4 linked regions of the Homo sapiens genome follow. The protein of the gene in region 3 purifies or fractionates together with the protein of the main gene of each other region. This does not show direct contact. Each region holds a gene or a part of one and is shown on either strand. Other genes may lie near its edges.

What was found.
Region 1: the proteins of ERCC6L (region 3) and TOP3A purify together in Homo sapiens (tandem affinity purification; one large-scale study listed by IntAct). This does not show direct contact.
Region 2: the proteins of ERCC6L (region 3) and PPT1 purify together in Homo sapiens (co-immunoprecipitation; one large-scale study listed by IntAct). This does not show direct contact.
Region 4: the proteins of ERCC6L (region 3) and IQGAP3 purify together in Homo sapiens (co-immunoprecipitation; one large-scale study listed by IntAct). This does not show direct contact.

What each region holds. Positions count from the first base shown.
Region 1 is NC_000017.11:18,287,407-18,290,994, reverse strand, and holds part of TOP3A (DNA topoisomerase 3-alpha), read left to right. Parts: coding exon 1-153; intron 154-308; coding exon 309-438; coding exon of another isoform or gene 439-473; exon of another isoform or gene 474-495; intron 496-3,588. UniProt on the Homo sapiens protein: Releases the supercoiling and torsional tension of DNA introduced during the DNA replication and transcription by transiently cleaving and rejoining one strand of the DNA duplex.
Region 2 is NC_000001.11:40,083,678-40,087,265, reverse strand, and holds part of PPT1 (palmitoyl-protein thioesterase 1 isoform 1 precursor), read left to right. Parts: intron 1-3,588. UniProt on the Homo sapiens protein: Has thioesterase activity against fatty acid thioesters with 14 -18 carbons, including palmitoyl-CoA, S-palmitoyl-N-acetylcysteamine, and palmitoylated proteins. In contrast to PPT2, PPT1 can hydrolyze palmitoylated proteins and palmitoylcysteine.
Region 3 is NC_000023.11:72,236,142-72,240,448, reverse strand, and holds the start of ERCC6L (DNA excision repair protein ERCC-6-like), read left to right. Parts: upstream 1-1,421; 5' UTR 1,422-1,537; coding exon 1,538-1,605; intron 1,606-2,500; exon of another isoform or gene 2,501-2,618; intron 2,619-4,307. UniProt on the Homo sapiens protein: DNA helicase that acts as a tension sensor that associates with catenated DNA which is stretched under tension until it is resolved during anaphase. Functions as ATP-dependent DNA translocase. Can promote Holliday junction branch migration (in vitro).
Region 4 is NC_000001.11:156,566,066-156,569,565, reverse strand, and holds part of IQGAP3 (ras GTPase-activating-like protein IQGAP3), read left to right. Parts: intron 1-102; coding exon 103-190; intron 191-3,019; coding exon 3,020-3,176; intron 3,177-3,458; exon of another isoform or gene 3,459-3,461; coding exon 3,462-3,500.

The sequences.
Region 1 (3,588 bases), on a different chromosome or scaffold from region 3:
CGCCATTTCCTGGCTTGCTGCTCCCAGGATGCTCAGGGGCAGGAGACCACAGTGGAGATCGACATCGCTCAGGAACGCTTTGTGGCCCATGGCCTCATGATTCTGGCCCGAAACTATCTGGATGTGTATCCATATGATCACTGGAGTGACAAGGTAATAAAGAGTGGTCCCCAGTGAGAGGGAGGACAGTTGTGTTGTGAGCCCTGAGTTCTCTAGTGGAGCAGGATCATGTTCCTTGAAATGAGGTTATTTTTTGCCTGAGTGTGCTGATGGAATCATCTGACTGTTGCACCTGCCGCTCCCTGTAGATCCTCCCTGTCTATGAGCAAGGATCCCACTTTCAGCCCAGCACCGTGGAGATGGTGGACGGGGAGACCAGCCCACCCAAGCTGCTCACCGAGGCCGACCTCATTGCCCTCATGGAGAAGCATGGCATTGGTCAGTGGCTCCTCTGGGTAACTCGCATCTCTTGAGCTAAGGCTTACAGTGTACCAGGTACAGGTTTCCTCTAGTCTTCAAACCATTCTCTAATGCAGCTGCTATATCTTTATCCCATTTTATAGTTGAAATAAGGCTCAGAGAGGTTAAGAACTTACCTAAGTTCACAAAGTGTGTATTATTAAAACCTGGTCTGAATAACTCCACAGTCAGTGCTCTTAAACCATGCACTGTGCTGTCCACATAGTAACAGAGACTTTTCCCATGGCTTTGAGGGCCCAACTGGGAGCACCCATTGGCCACATGAGGATTTGTTGTTCTTTCGAATAAGAACAGCATGTAAGGAACCAACAATTAAAACTTGGGACAGTTATCATAAAATCTATCTTCATTTTGAAGTGTCAGATAGAGCCCTGAGCCTCCTTCCCATGTGGAGCATTGGGTGAGGGTGGCAGCTGTCTCTGCAGGTCTGAACCCACACTGCTCACTCAGGCTGCTCACGCTGGCCTCATGTATGTGCCAGGACCCTGCTGATAAGTCCCATGGCTCAAGCTTTGCAGGTAGGGCCTTGTAACTAATCTGCTGTCCCCTCCATTCGTTTTTGTCAAGGCTCTCAAGGGCTTTCTCTGGCAAACCTAGTCCAGGAATACCTGCAGCACAGTGGAGGGGAAGCAGAGCTCCCTGGGCATGTGTTACATAAGCAGCTGCGTCATCCACAAAGGGAGTTTCTTAGGCCTATGACTTGGGAAGCAGTGCTTCAACGTGAAGTCCTTGACCATCACTAGGACATCCAGAAACCCTGCAGGTTTAGGTAAAATTAGTAGAGGTTCACCCGTCATGATTTATTTGATAAAAATGTATGAAGGCTGGGTGTGGTGGCTCACACCTGTAATCCCAGCATTTTGGGAGGCCAAGATGGGTGAATCACTTGAGCCCAGGAATTCAAGACCAGCTTGGGCAACACGGTAAAACCCCATCTTGCTGGGCGCAGTGGCTCACGCCTGTAATCCCAACACTTCAGGAGGCTGAGCTGGGTGGATCACCTGAGGTAGGGAGTTTAAGACCACCAACCTGACCAACATGGTGAAACTCTGTCTCTACTAAAAATACAAAAATTAGCCAGGCATGGCGGTGGGCACCTGTAGCTGAGATTGTGCCATTGTACTCCAGCCTGGGCAACAACAGCAAAACTCTGTCTTAAAACAAACAAACAAACAACAACAACAACAACAAAACAGATCTGGCTGGGCACGGTGACTCATGCCTGTAATCTTAGTACTTTGGGAGGCCAAGGCGGGTGGATCACCTAAGGTCAGGAGTTCGAGACCAGCCTGGCCAACATGGCAAAACCCCATCACTACTAAAAAAATACAAAAATTAGCTAGGCGTGGTGGCACATGCCTGTAATCCCAGCTACTTGGGAGGCTGAGGCAGGAGAATTGCATGAACCCGGGAGGTGGAGGATGCAGTGAGCCAGGATCGCAGCACTGCACTCCAGCCTGGGTGACAGAGTGAGACTCCATCTCAAAAAAAACATTTCTACAAAAAATTAGGTGCATGCCTATAGGTAGGGAGGCTGAGGTGGGAGGATCACTTGAGCCCGGAAGGCAGAGACTGAGGTACAAAGTGTGAGGCCCACAAGAGTGAGAGCTTGGACTAAGCACCAGGGACACAAGGAGGAATAAGACCTCATTTTTTAAGTTCTCAATCTAACAGAAGAACCAAACCAACACATTGAATACAATGTAATAGTTCTGCAGGGAGTAGGCAGGGAAGAAAATGTGATGGGTGGACTGGCATTTGAGCTGGACCAAAACCTCATAGTAAGACTTCTGGATCAGCGAAGGGCAGCCCAGTGCAGGGTAGGCCTGAGGAAGGGCACAGGAGCAGGAAAGCAGAAGCCTGCTGTAGCTGGATTGGAGGGGGGTGGCCATAGAAGGTGAGCCTGGAAAGATGATCCAAGCCTGACTTTGCAGGGCCTTGGCTTGCCCAGTTGAAGGGCTTAGATGGTGGTACATGGTCAGCAGGGAGTCTTCCAGGATTTCTAAGTAAAGGAACCACATAGAGGTACACTTACAAAAAAATAATAATAATATTTTTAAAAGATTATTAACAGGCTGGGCATTGTGTCTCACACCTATAATCCCAGCACTTTGGGAGACCAAGGTAGGGGGTCAGGAGTTCAAGACCAGCCTGGACAACATGGTGAAACTCCATCTCTACTAAAAATACAAAAAATTGCTAGGTGTTATGGCTGACGCCTGTAATCCCAGCTACTTAGGAGGCTGAGGCAGGAGAATTGCTTGAACCCGGGAGGTGGAGGTTGCAGTGAGCCAAGATTGTGCCACTGCACTTCAGCCTTGGTGACAGAGAGAGACTCCATCTAAAAAAAAAAAAAAAAAAAATTTATATATATATATATATAATTATTAACAGCTTTATTTATATACCATACAGTTTATCTCCTTCAAATGTATAATGTACATTTTTTAGCATATTCACAAAGTTGTGCAGCTATCACCACAGTCAGTTTTTTTGTTTTTTTTGTTGTTTGTTTGAGATGGAGTTTTGCTCTTGTTGCTGCAGGCTGGAGTGGAGTGGCACAATCTCTGCTCACTGCAACTTCCGCCACCCAGGTTCAAGCGATTCTCCTGTCTCAGCCTCCCGAGTAGCTAGGCTTACAGGCACGCACCACCACACCCAGCTAATTTTTGTTATTTTTAGTAGAGACAGGGTTTCACCATGTTGGCCAGGTTGGCTGGTCTCAAACTCCTGACCTCATGATCCGCCCACCTAGGCCTCCCAAAGTGTTAGGATTACAGGTGTTAGCCACCATGCCCGGCCCCTAAAAAAATTTGTTTTGGAGAGATAGCATCTTACTCTGTCACCCAGGCTAGGTCACAGCCATGAACCCTGGGTTTCAAGGGATCCTTCCACCTCAGCTTCCCAAGTAGCTGGGACTACAGGCATGTGTTGCCATACCCAGCTAATTTTTTTGTTGGGTTTTTTGTTTGTTTGTTTTGTTTTGTTTGAGACAGAGTCTTACTCTGTCACCCAGGCTGGAGTGTAGTGGCACGATTTCAGCTCACTGCAACCTCCGCCTCCCAGGTTCAAGAGATTCTCCTGCCTCAGCCTCCTGAGTAGCTGGGA
Region 2 (3,588 bases), on a different chromosome or scaffold from region 3:
GTCTCAAAAAATAAAAATAAAAAATACTGATTAAAAGCTATAGATTGATGTGTTTATCTTCACTTCCTCCTTAAACTTTAATTAAGTGGTAGCAGAAGAATAAAAAGTGATAAACCCACAAGGGCAGAGAGAACAGGGAGAGAGGAGGTAAGAGATCATAAAAAATGGCAACATGTTTTTGAAAGCAAGCAAGCAGATGAATGAGTGTGAGAACTGTTTTAGCAGAGCAGATGGTGAAGGCTTAAAGTAATAAAGAGAAATCATTTTGTCTTTGTGATACTGTCCCAGGTTGCCCCTGGTATTAGGGAGGATTAATTCTGGTTGCAAGAAGAAACCCATATCAAGCCAAAGTAAATTTTAAAAGAAAGTAATACTCTGTTGGTGCCTAAAGCCTCATAGGGCCTAGAATCAAGAATTGGGAGCCATGAGGAGCCAGGGTATTCTCTCTCCAGTGCCATTGTTGCTTCTCTCTCTGTGTCGCTGCTTCTTTCTCTCCATGCAGACCAGCTTCCCCTGCCACCCACATGATGGAAGGTGGCCTCGCACGGCTTCCAAATGTTTAATTTTCTGTTAGGAGATTGTCTCAGTCTGAGGCTAGACTCTCTTTGTCCCGATTCAGATTCTTCAGGAAGGGACCATGCCCCAGCTCAGGTCAGGTCTCCCCCTCTGCTCTCATTAGCTGTGGCCAGAGAAGTGGGACCGTGCTTACTAACCATACCCCACCTCCCTGTAAACCAGTAGGCCGGGCAGGAAGAGTGCAAGAGAGGCAGAGACCCCAAAAGATGTCTTCCACATTCTTCAGATAACTTAACCTTAGCAAAGCAAACGTGATATCCTAATACGCACAGTAACTGGTGGGGAAGCCCCCGGCTTGGCATGGTGAGGGCAACGAGGAATGGTATAATAGTTCTCTCTCTCCTTCCTGGATGTAAAACTACCCTCTAGTTCCCTTTTGCCTTTGCAGATGCTGTCAGCCCTTCCTAGCCTTCTCCTTCCTCCGGTTTGCTCCCTGCCATCCCCTGCCCCACGCTCTACCCTCCTACCTCTACACTCCCTGCCACAATGAATGCTTCAGTGTTGCCCTGGCCTTGGCCTCCGTCTTCCCCCGTACCAGCTCAGAGGAAGCTAGAGCTTTACATATCCTGTTTAATTTTCATAGCAACTTGCCTTCCCCAGGTCTGCTCTGGGCCCCGCTCCCAGTTTGCACCCCACCCTCAGTGGATCTCAGAGTGCTTTTCCTCAATTGTCCAGTTTTCCCATGTCTTTGCCCTCAGCCGATGAACTTGCAACTTGGTTTTCTGGAAATATTAAGGCATCTACTCAGGCTCTCTCAGAGACTTTCAGCCATTCAAAAAAGTTAGAGAGTAATGTAACGAACTACAGGCATACCTCAGAGAAACTGAGGATTTGGTTCTAGACCACCACAATAAAGCAAATATTGTTAATACAGCAAGTCACACAAAGTTGTTGGTTTCCCAGCGCATATAAAAGCTATGTTTACACTATACTGAAGTCTATTAAGTGTGCAGTAGCATCATGCCTAAAAAAAGTACATGCCTTAATTAGAAAATACTTTATTGCTAAAAAATGCTAATCATTTGAGTCTTCAGCAAGTCATCTTTTTGCTGGTGGAGGGTCTTGCCTCGGTGTTGATGGCTGCTGACTGATCAGGGTGGTGGTTGCTGAAGGTTGGGATGTAGGGTCCAGCCCCACAGGGTCGGTGGGTTTTTCTCCCTGTGTGCGGAGATGAGAGATTGTAGAAATAAAGACACAAGACAAAGAGATAAAAGACAGCTGGGCCCGGGGGACCACTACCACCAAGACGTGGAGACTGGTAGCGGCCCCGAATGCCAGGCTGCGCTGATATTTATTGGATACAAGACAAGGGGGGCAGGGTAAGGAGTGTGAGCCATCTCCCATGATAGGTAAAGTCACATGGGTCACGTGTCCACTGGACAGGGGGCCCTTCCCTGTTTGGCAGCCGAGGTGGGGAGAGAGAGAGAGAAAGACAGCTTAGGCCATTATTTCTGCATATCAGAGACTTTTAGTACTTTCACTAATTTTGCTACTGCTATCTAAAAGGCAGAGCCAGGTGTACAGGATGGAACATGAAAGCAGGCTAGGAACATGACCACTGAAGCACAGCATCACAGGGAGATGGTTGGGCCTCCGGATAACTGCAGGCGGGCCTGACTGATGTCACGCCCTCCACAAGAGGTGGAGGAGTAGAGGCTTCTCTAAACTCCCCCGGGGAAAGGGAGACTCCCTTTCCCAGTCTGCTAAGTAGTGGGTGTTTTTCCTTGGCACTGACGCTACCACTAGACCACGGTCCGCTTGGCAACGGACATCTTCCCAGACGCTGGCATTACCGCTAGACCAAGGAGCCCTCTAGTGGCCCTGTCCGGGCATGACAGAGGGCTCACACTATTGTCTTCTGGTCACTTCTGAGCATGTCCCTTCAGCTCCTATCTCTGTATGGCCTGGCTTTTCCTAGGTTATGATTGTAGGGCAAGGATTATTATAATATTGGAATAAAGAATAATTGCTACAAACTAATGATGAATGGTATTCATATATAATCATGTTTATGATCTAGGTCTAGGATAACTCTTGTTGTTTTATATATTTTATTATACCGGAACAGCTCATGCCCTCGGTCTCTTGCCTCGGCACCTGGGTGGCCTGCTGCCCACATTGGGGTGGCTGTGCTAATTTCTTAAAGTGAGACAATGATGAACTTTGTATCAGTTGACTCTTCCTTTCATGAAAGATTTCTTTGTAGCATGCGATGCTATTTGGTAGCATTTTGGCCACAATAGAACATCTTTCAGAACTGGAGTCAATCCTCAAACCCTGCCGCTGCTTTTATGTAAGCTTATGTAATATTTATTCTAAATCCTTTGTTGTCGTTTCATCAGTGTTCACAGCATCTTCACCAGGAGTAGATTCCATCTCAAGAAGCCACTGTTTTGCTCATCCGTAAGAAGCAATTCCTTATCTGTTTTTTGAGATTGCAACAATTCAGTCACATCGTCAGGTTCCACTTCTAATTCTAGTTCTCCTGCTATTTCCACATCTGCAGTTACTTCCTTCATTGAAGTCTTGAATCCCTCAGCCATTCATGAGGGTTGGAATCAACTTCTTTTAAATTCCTGATAATACTGATATTTTGACCTCTTCCCGTGAATCATGAATTTTTGTTTGTTTGTTTTTGAGACAGAGTCTCACTCTGTCACCCAAGTTGGAGTGCAGTGGTGCCATTACAGCTTACTGCAACATAGCCTCAACCTCCCAGGCTCAAGCAATCCTCCCACCTCAGCGTCCTGAGCAGCTGGGACTACAGGTGTGAGCCACTACACCCCACTAATTTTTTAATTTTTTTGTAGAGATAGGATCTCATTTATGTTGCCCAGGCTAGTCTCACACTCCTGGGCTCCACTGATTTTCCCTCCTCACCCTCCCAAAGTGCATGGTACCCAGCCCGTTAATGTTCTTAATGGCATCTAGAATGATAAATCCTTTCCATCAGGTTTTCCGTTTACTTTGCCCAGATGCATCAAAGGGATCACTGTCTATGCAGCTACAACC
Region 3 (4,307 bases):
GACTGGGCCAATAGGTGAGTTTTCCAATACTGAATGCTAAATTAGTGTCTTGAGGAGTCATGTCTGTGTTCTTAACAGTATATGAACAAGGACAATTTTTGTTGGCCCACAACCTCCTATTTAGTGTCACCCAAGCAAGCCACTTAAACTCAATCACATTTCCTTAAGCTCTAGGCTCTGCCTTCTTTTTAGGCTCTGCATTTGAAAATGACTGTATCTTAGTTGGTGCTTCTGAAGAAATGATGACCACAGCACTACTTCTTTTTTTTTAAATTATTTTTGTCTTCCTTTTATTATACCAAGTATGTGAACCTAGTTACTTATTTCTTAAATAAGAACTTTAATTTTTTTTTTTTTTTTGAGATGGAGTCTTTCTCTGTCACCCAGGCTGGAGTGCAGTGGCATGATCTTGGCTCACTGCAGCCTCCACCTCCAGGGTTTGAGATTCTTGAAGACCCTTCTCTCTTTCTCTCTCTCTTTTTAAGAAAATAAATACAGCATAACGCCCTGTGGAGAAGAAAAAAATTTTTTTTAAAGAGACGGGAGTCTCACCATGTTGCCCAGGCTGGTCTCGAACTCCTAAGTGCAAGTGATCCTCCCACCTTAGCCTCCCAAAAGGCTAGGATAACAGGCGTGAGGCACTGCACCCAGCCTTTTTTTTTTTTTTTTTTTTTTTTGAGATGGAGTCTCGCTTTGCCACCCAGGCTGGAGTGCAGTGGTGCAATCCCGGCTCACTGCAACCTCCACCTCCTGGGTCCAAGCGATTCTCGTGCCTCAGCCACCCGAGTAGCTGGGACTGCGGGCGCCCGCCACCACGCCCGGCTAATTTTTTGTATTTTTAGTAGAGACGGGGTGTCACCATTTTAGCCAGGTTGGTCTCGAACTCCTGACCTCACGTGATCCGCCCGCCCCGGTCTCCCAAAGTGCTGGGATTACAGGCGTGAACCACCGCGTCTGGTCGCTTCTTCAATGTTAGTTTAAATCACAGGGACTATGCCTCCCAGGGTGTTTGAATTCAAAGCACGGTCAGTGCCAGGTACTGGCGATCAAGGAAGGGAAGATATCTGTGGATGCGGGGCAGGGTATGGTTGGGGGACGCAGGCGTTGGAGATCTCCAGGGGTCGCCGCAATGACTGGGATCATATCGGGCAGTCTCCTCCACTCACAATGATGGCACACGCACGCGCGAACGAATTGGCTGCAGCATGGTTTGAATTGGATTGAAACGCGAGGGATCACAGACTGAGGCAGCACACTCCGTGTCTCGAAGGCAGAGATCACCTTCTGCTTCCCGGCGCGCGTAGGCGCAGGCGCCCACCGTCATGGGCGGGGCTCAGGCGGAGGCGTCGCAGCGCGTGGTCGCGGATTGGCCGGCCGCGAGGCCGTCGGTTGGCTGTGTCCCTCTCCACGGCGCACAGAGCATGCGCGGGGCGGGAGTGAGCGAAATTCAAGCTCCAAACTCTAAGCTCCAAGCTCCAAGCTCCAAGCTCCAAGCTCCAAACTCCCGCCGGGGTAACTGGAACCCAATCCGAGGGTCATGGAGGCATCCCGAAGGTTTCCGGAAGCCGAGGCCTTGAGCCCAGAGCAGGCTGCTCATTACCTAAGGTATGTCTGGACCGCTGGGCGGGTCTAGCTAACCGACCTGGCCCAGGGTGGAGGTGGGGTGGCCCCCGGATCCTCCTGGGGACCCGAACTGTTGAGGCGGAGCCTTTTGAGACGCGCGCTCGCGCTCTTCTCGCAGTAGGGTGTGGGAGTCAGCTCTGGATGTTTGACCAGATTTCTAAAACCTGAGGAGACCCCGATGCCTCTTCTTTTGGGCAAATGACCCTCCAGTATGGTCTCCTTAAAAGCCAGAGGAGCCTTAATTAATCAAGCCCTTCTTGATTCTTTTCAGCTTATCAAGCCCTAAGTCTAGGGGATACAGAGATGAGTAAAACAAGGTCCCCGCCCCCAAATTGTTTGTAATCTAGTAGTGGAAACGGATCTGTAAAGCAATAATTACTAGGTTTGATAAGTGCTGTAAGAGGTATAATGTACGTGCAGGGCACAGTGTTGGCATAAAAGAGGGAATGGCCAACTACAAGGGTGGTCAGCTAAGGGATGGCGTGGCAAGAGGAGACATTTGAGCTAGGCGTTGAAAAATGAGTAAACATTCACCAGTTGGCTAAGGGTGGGGGGCGTGGTAATGTTGGGATGAGAATTTAAATTTTTTCTTAAATTGTGGTAAAGTACACATAACATAAATTTTATCTTTTTGTGCAGAAACTGGGTTTTATGAAAAATAAAGTTTATCATCCTAACCATTTTTAAATGTACAGTTCAGTAGTGTTGACTACATTCATATTGTTGTGCAGCCGTCCGTCATCTCCAGAACTTTTCTCATGTGGCAAAACTGAAACTACTCCCATTAAACAAACTCCCCATTTCCCCCTCCCTTCAGCCCCTAGCAACCATTATTCTGTCTCTGTGAATTTTACTGCTTTAATTTTTTTTGAGACAGGGTCTTGCTGTGTCGCCCAGACTGGAATTCAGTGGCCTGATCATAGTTCACTGCAGCCTCGAACTCCTGGGCTCAAGCAGTCCTCCTGCCCCAGCCTCCCTAGTAGCTGGGACTTAAGGTGGGTGCCACCATGTCCAGCCAATTTATTATTTTACTATTGTTGTTTTATATATATTTTTAGAGACAGGGTCTGGCTCTGTCACCCAGGCTGGAGTGCAGTGGCGCGATCTCTAACTCAGCTCACTGCAACTTCCATCCCCCGGGGCTCATGCGATCCTCCCACCTGTTTCCGGAGTAGCTGGGACCACAGGCGCACACCACCACACCCAGCTATTTTTTTTTTTTCTTTTTTTGATACAGTCTCGCTCTGTCACCCAGGCTGGAGTGCAGTGGCGCGGTCTGGGCTCACAGCAAGCTCCGCCTTCCGGGTTCACGCCATTCTCCTGCCTCAGCCTCCCGAGTAGCTGGGACTACAGGCGCCCGCTAACACACCCGGCTAATTTTTTGTATTTTTGGTAGAGACGGGGTTTCACCGTGTTAGCCGGGATGGTCTCAATCTCCTGACCTCGTGATCCGCCCGCCTCGGCCTCCCAAAGTATTTTTTTTGTGTTTTTAGTAGAGACAGGGTCTCGCCATGTTGCCCAGGCTGGTCTCAAACTCCTGAGTTCAAGCAATCCTCCTGCCTCGGCCTCCCAAAGTGTTGAGATTACAGACGTGGGCCACCATGCCAGGCCTTTCATTTAGATTTTTCCAATTGTTTGCCATTATACTTTTGTTGTAATAGGCAGCCTTTGTGTGAATTTTTGTGCACTTCGTAACTGAGTGTACACTTTGGAATTCCGATTGCTGGGTCTTAGGGAATGTGTATTTAAAATTGCCATTCAAGAAAACCATGCCAGATTTTAATAAAGTCAATAGTGTGAGTAAGCATTTATTTATATTCTCTCAGGCTGGTGTGTGATGAGCTATATGAGTCAATTCAAAAGTTAAGATACATAGTTTTACTTTTGAAGCTAAGACTTGTAGTATTTTCTTCTACAGATACACTTACATGAGTGAGCAAAGATGTGTGTGCGTGTGTATACAGTAAGTCCTCACTTAACATTGTCCATAGGTTCTTGGAAACTGACTTTAAGTGAAATGACGTAGCAAAACCAATTTTTTTCTCATCAGTGTTGCAGCAAAATGATATTGAATGAACCAGTGTCATTCAAGGGCCTGCTGTGTGTCATTTTGCTTAAAGTTGCAGTTGCCAAGAACCTACTGACCACGTTAACTGAGGACTTACTGTACATATAAACATATACCAGAGGTGTGTGCCATGAAGCCCGGCTAATTTTTAAAAGATTTTTGTAGGCTGGGTGCAGTGGCTCATGCCTGTAATCCCAGCACTTTGGGAGGGCGAGGCAGGTGCATCACGAGGTCAGGAGTTCAAGACCAGTCTGGACAACATGGTGAAGCCCCGTCTCTACTAAAAATACAAAAATTAGTCAGATATGGTGGCGGGCACCTGTAATCCCAGCTACTTGGGAGGCTGAGGCAGAATTGCTTCAACCCAGGAGGCGGAGGTTGCAGCGAGCTGAGATGGCGCCACTGCACTCCAGCCTGGGCAACAGAGCAAGACTCCGTCTCAGAAAAAAAAGAAAAAAAAGATTTTTGTAGAGATGAAGTCTCACTGTGTTGCCCAGGCTGGTCTTGAACTCCTAGACTCAAGTGATCCTCCCAACTCAGGCTGCCAAAGCACTGGGATTACAGGTGTGAGCCACCATGCCCAGCAGAATCAGACTTTTTATTACACTTACATTAT
Region 4 (3,500 bases), on a different chromosome or scaffold from region 3:
GCCTGGGCGTCTCAAAAAAAAAAAAAAAAAAAAAAAAGACCCTTCAGTGCTAAGGCACCTCTAATGCTCTCTTCATTGACCTTATCCCGTTTAACTCCTCAGATGAACGCCTCACAGCTGAGGAGATGGATGAGCAGAGGCGGCAGAATGTTGCCTATCAGTACCTGTGCCGGCTGGAGGAGGCCAAGCGGTGAGCGGAGTCCAGGAAGATGGACTCTTTCTGCTCTCCCTTTCTACCACCCCACCCTAGGCATCTGCCGCTAAAGCAAATGCAACAGATCGAGAGTCCATCCTGTGGGAAAGGGCGAGTTGAAATAGCTTTTTAATTTTTTTTTTTTGAAGCAAATCCCAGTCACATCCTTTTACCCACTATATACCGCAATATGTATCTCCAAAATATGTGGACGTTCGCTTATATAGCCACAATGCCATTATAATATCCAACTAAATTATTTTAAATCCTTGGAAGATCAATACCCAAGCCATTTTCAAATTTTCCTGCTTGTCTTAAAAAAAAAATCTGTTTTTACAGTTATCTTATTCAAATAAGGATCCAAAAAGCTCACTAATTACATCTGCTTGTATGTCTTCTTTAATCCAGAGCAGCCCATCTCCTTTTTTCAGTTCATTATCTTATTGACTTGCTGAAGAAAACTGGGTCATTTTCCTGAAGTACATCCTACATTTTGTCTCTATTTCTTTTCTTTCTTTCCTTCTGTTTTTTAGAGATGGGTGTCTATTTGCTTTCTTGTGTCATTCAGCTTATTCCTGTATACCCTGTATTTCCTATAAATGAATGTTGGCTTAATTAGATTTGGGTTCAACATTTTTGACAAGCAACATGGCGAAACCCCATCTTTACAAAAAATACAAATATTAGCCAGGCATGGTGGCGTGTGCCCATAGTCCCAGCTACTTGGGGGGCTGAGGAAGGAGGATTGCTTGAACCTGGGAGGTCGAGGAGGCCACAGTGAGCCAAGATGGCACCACTGCACTCCATCCTGGATGACAAAGTGAGACTGTGTCTCCAAAAACAAACAGAAAAACCTGGATGGGCGCTGTGGCTCACGCCTGTAATCCCAGCACTTTGGGAGGCCAAGGCGGGCAGATCACCTGGGGCCAGGAGTTTGAGACCAGCCTGGCTGACATGGTGAAATCCTGTCTCTACAAAAAAAATACAAAAATTAGCTGGTCGCAGTGGTGCATGCCTGTAATCCCAGCTACTCAGGAGGCTGAGGCAGGAGAATCGCTTGAACCCAGGAGGCAGATGTTGCAGTGAGCCAAGATCATGCCATTGCACTCCAGCCTGGGTGAAAGAGTGAGACTCTGTCTCAAAAAAAAACAAAAACAAAAAGCCATTTTTGACAAGAAGACTTCATTAGTGTTGGTGGTTTTTTTTCCCCCACTCAGATCCTTTTACCCCTTATATACTGCAATACATATATCTAAAATATGTGATATTTAACATATGTAAGATACATGTTCCATATCACATCTTATAGAAAGAATACAATGTCTGCTTGTTCCACTTTTAGTGATGCTAAGTTCAATCTGGGAGTTTAGGTGAAACCAACCTGATTTACACATCATAAAATTTCCCATTAACTTTCATCTAATGCCTTCATTCATTGTTGGTCTACATCAGAATTTATTATTTTATCAAGGGTGTAAAATGACTATTTTCTAGTTCTGTCATTTCTTCCATATTTACTAGCTGAAATCCTAAAGAACATTCCCTCATCATCTTAGGACTATTCGGTTACTCTAAAAGTCAATCTGTACAGGAAAAGCAGGATACGTACTTAATTCTTTGCTTTTAATCAACAGGATTCTTTTAATGTTCTTAAAGGAGTCAGGAGGATGGGGCAATCAGGAAAAATCAGGTGTCTAAGGCAGGGAAGACATGGAACAATGTGTAACTGGCTCTCTTTTTGGAAACAGATACTTTCCAATTAGACCCCAATATGTAGGGAAGTTTGGAGATTCCATCTGAGTAGACTTTAATCTCTCCCTCATACAACCATCAGTAATAATAATACTTTATATTCAAAGTGTTTTCACATTCATTAGCTCATTTGATCCTGGCAGCTGCCCACTGAAGGAAATACAGGTGGCATTATCCTCATTTTGCAAATTGTGCAACTGAGGCTCACAGAGGTGAAGTAGGGAAGATGGTTGGAAAGGGGGCCTTCGGACTCCAAGAGCTGTGGTCGTTCTGTCCCTTTGTGCTGCTCCCCTTCCACCAGCCCCACTACTCTCATCATCATCAAAGCTGGGTTATGAGCCATGTAGATCATTCAGGCAGACATGACCTTTCTGCACCCAGGTTCTCAGAGAACAACCCAGAATGAAAGAAGTGAGCACGTTCTATTTTGTTTAGCAGTCAAAGATGTAACTAGGGCCGGGCGCGGTGGCTCATGCCTGTAATCCCAGCACTTTGGGAGGCCAAGGCGGGCGGATCACCTGAGGTCGGGAGTTTGAGACCAGCCTGACCAACATGGAGAAACCCTATCTCTACTAAAAATACAAAATTAGCTGGGCGTGGTGGGGTGTGCCTGTAATCCCAACTACTCGGGAGGCTGAAGGCAGGAGAATCACTTGAACCTGGGAGGCGGAGGTTGCAGTGAGCCAAGATCGCACCATTGCACTCTAGCCTGGGCAACAAGAGCGAGACGCCATTTCAAAAAAAAAAAAAAAAAAAAAAGCATGTAACTAGACTGAGTGAGAAGCTATGTAACAGTTAAGCCTCACTGAAGATGGGCAGGTTCAGGATCTGTCAAGGAAGATTTGCTGGGGTGGGTGGGGCTGAGGGTTGGCCAGTCCAGATATTTGGGGCAACCTAGGAGAAGGTGGGAACAGCCAGGCAATGGGCAGAGAAGGGAGTTGGAGGTAGAGCAGGAACAGGAAGCAGAGGAGGGTCAGGGGCCACTTAAAAGGAGGGACAGAGGGAAGTTCCTGTTGTTAGAATAAATCACTGTGGTCTGCCAGAGTGCGTGAGAAGGTGTTCTCATGTTCATAGCTGGATGGAGGCCTGCCTGAAGGAGGAGCTTCCTTCCCCGGTGGAGCTGGAGGAGAGCCTTCGGAATGGAGTGCTGCTGGCCAAGCTAGGCCACTGTTTTGCACCCTCCGTGGTTCCCTTGAAGAAGATCTACGATGTGGAGCAGCTGCGGTACCAGGTGGGAGGATTGGACCCCACCTTCTACCTTCGTCCCCTCAAACTATGCTTTCTCCTCAAAGCTGTGAGGGTAGAGTGACCATATAACTTATTGTCCAAATCTGGATAAAAGGGAGTGTTATTAATCTATGTTTCTCTGTCCTGGTAGGGATGGAAAATCCACAGGATGTGGTCCTCTGGTTCCCCTCTGCCCATCTCTCCTGAATCTTTAAGCTGTAGTCTGGGCTTTACCCATAGGGAGTGCTGAGAACTGTGGAAATAGATTTTCTTTTTCCTTCCCTTTCAGGCAACTGGCTTACATTTCCGTCACACAGACAACATCAAC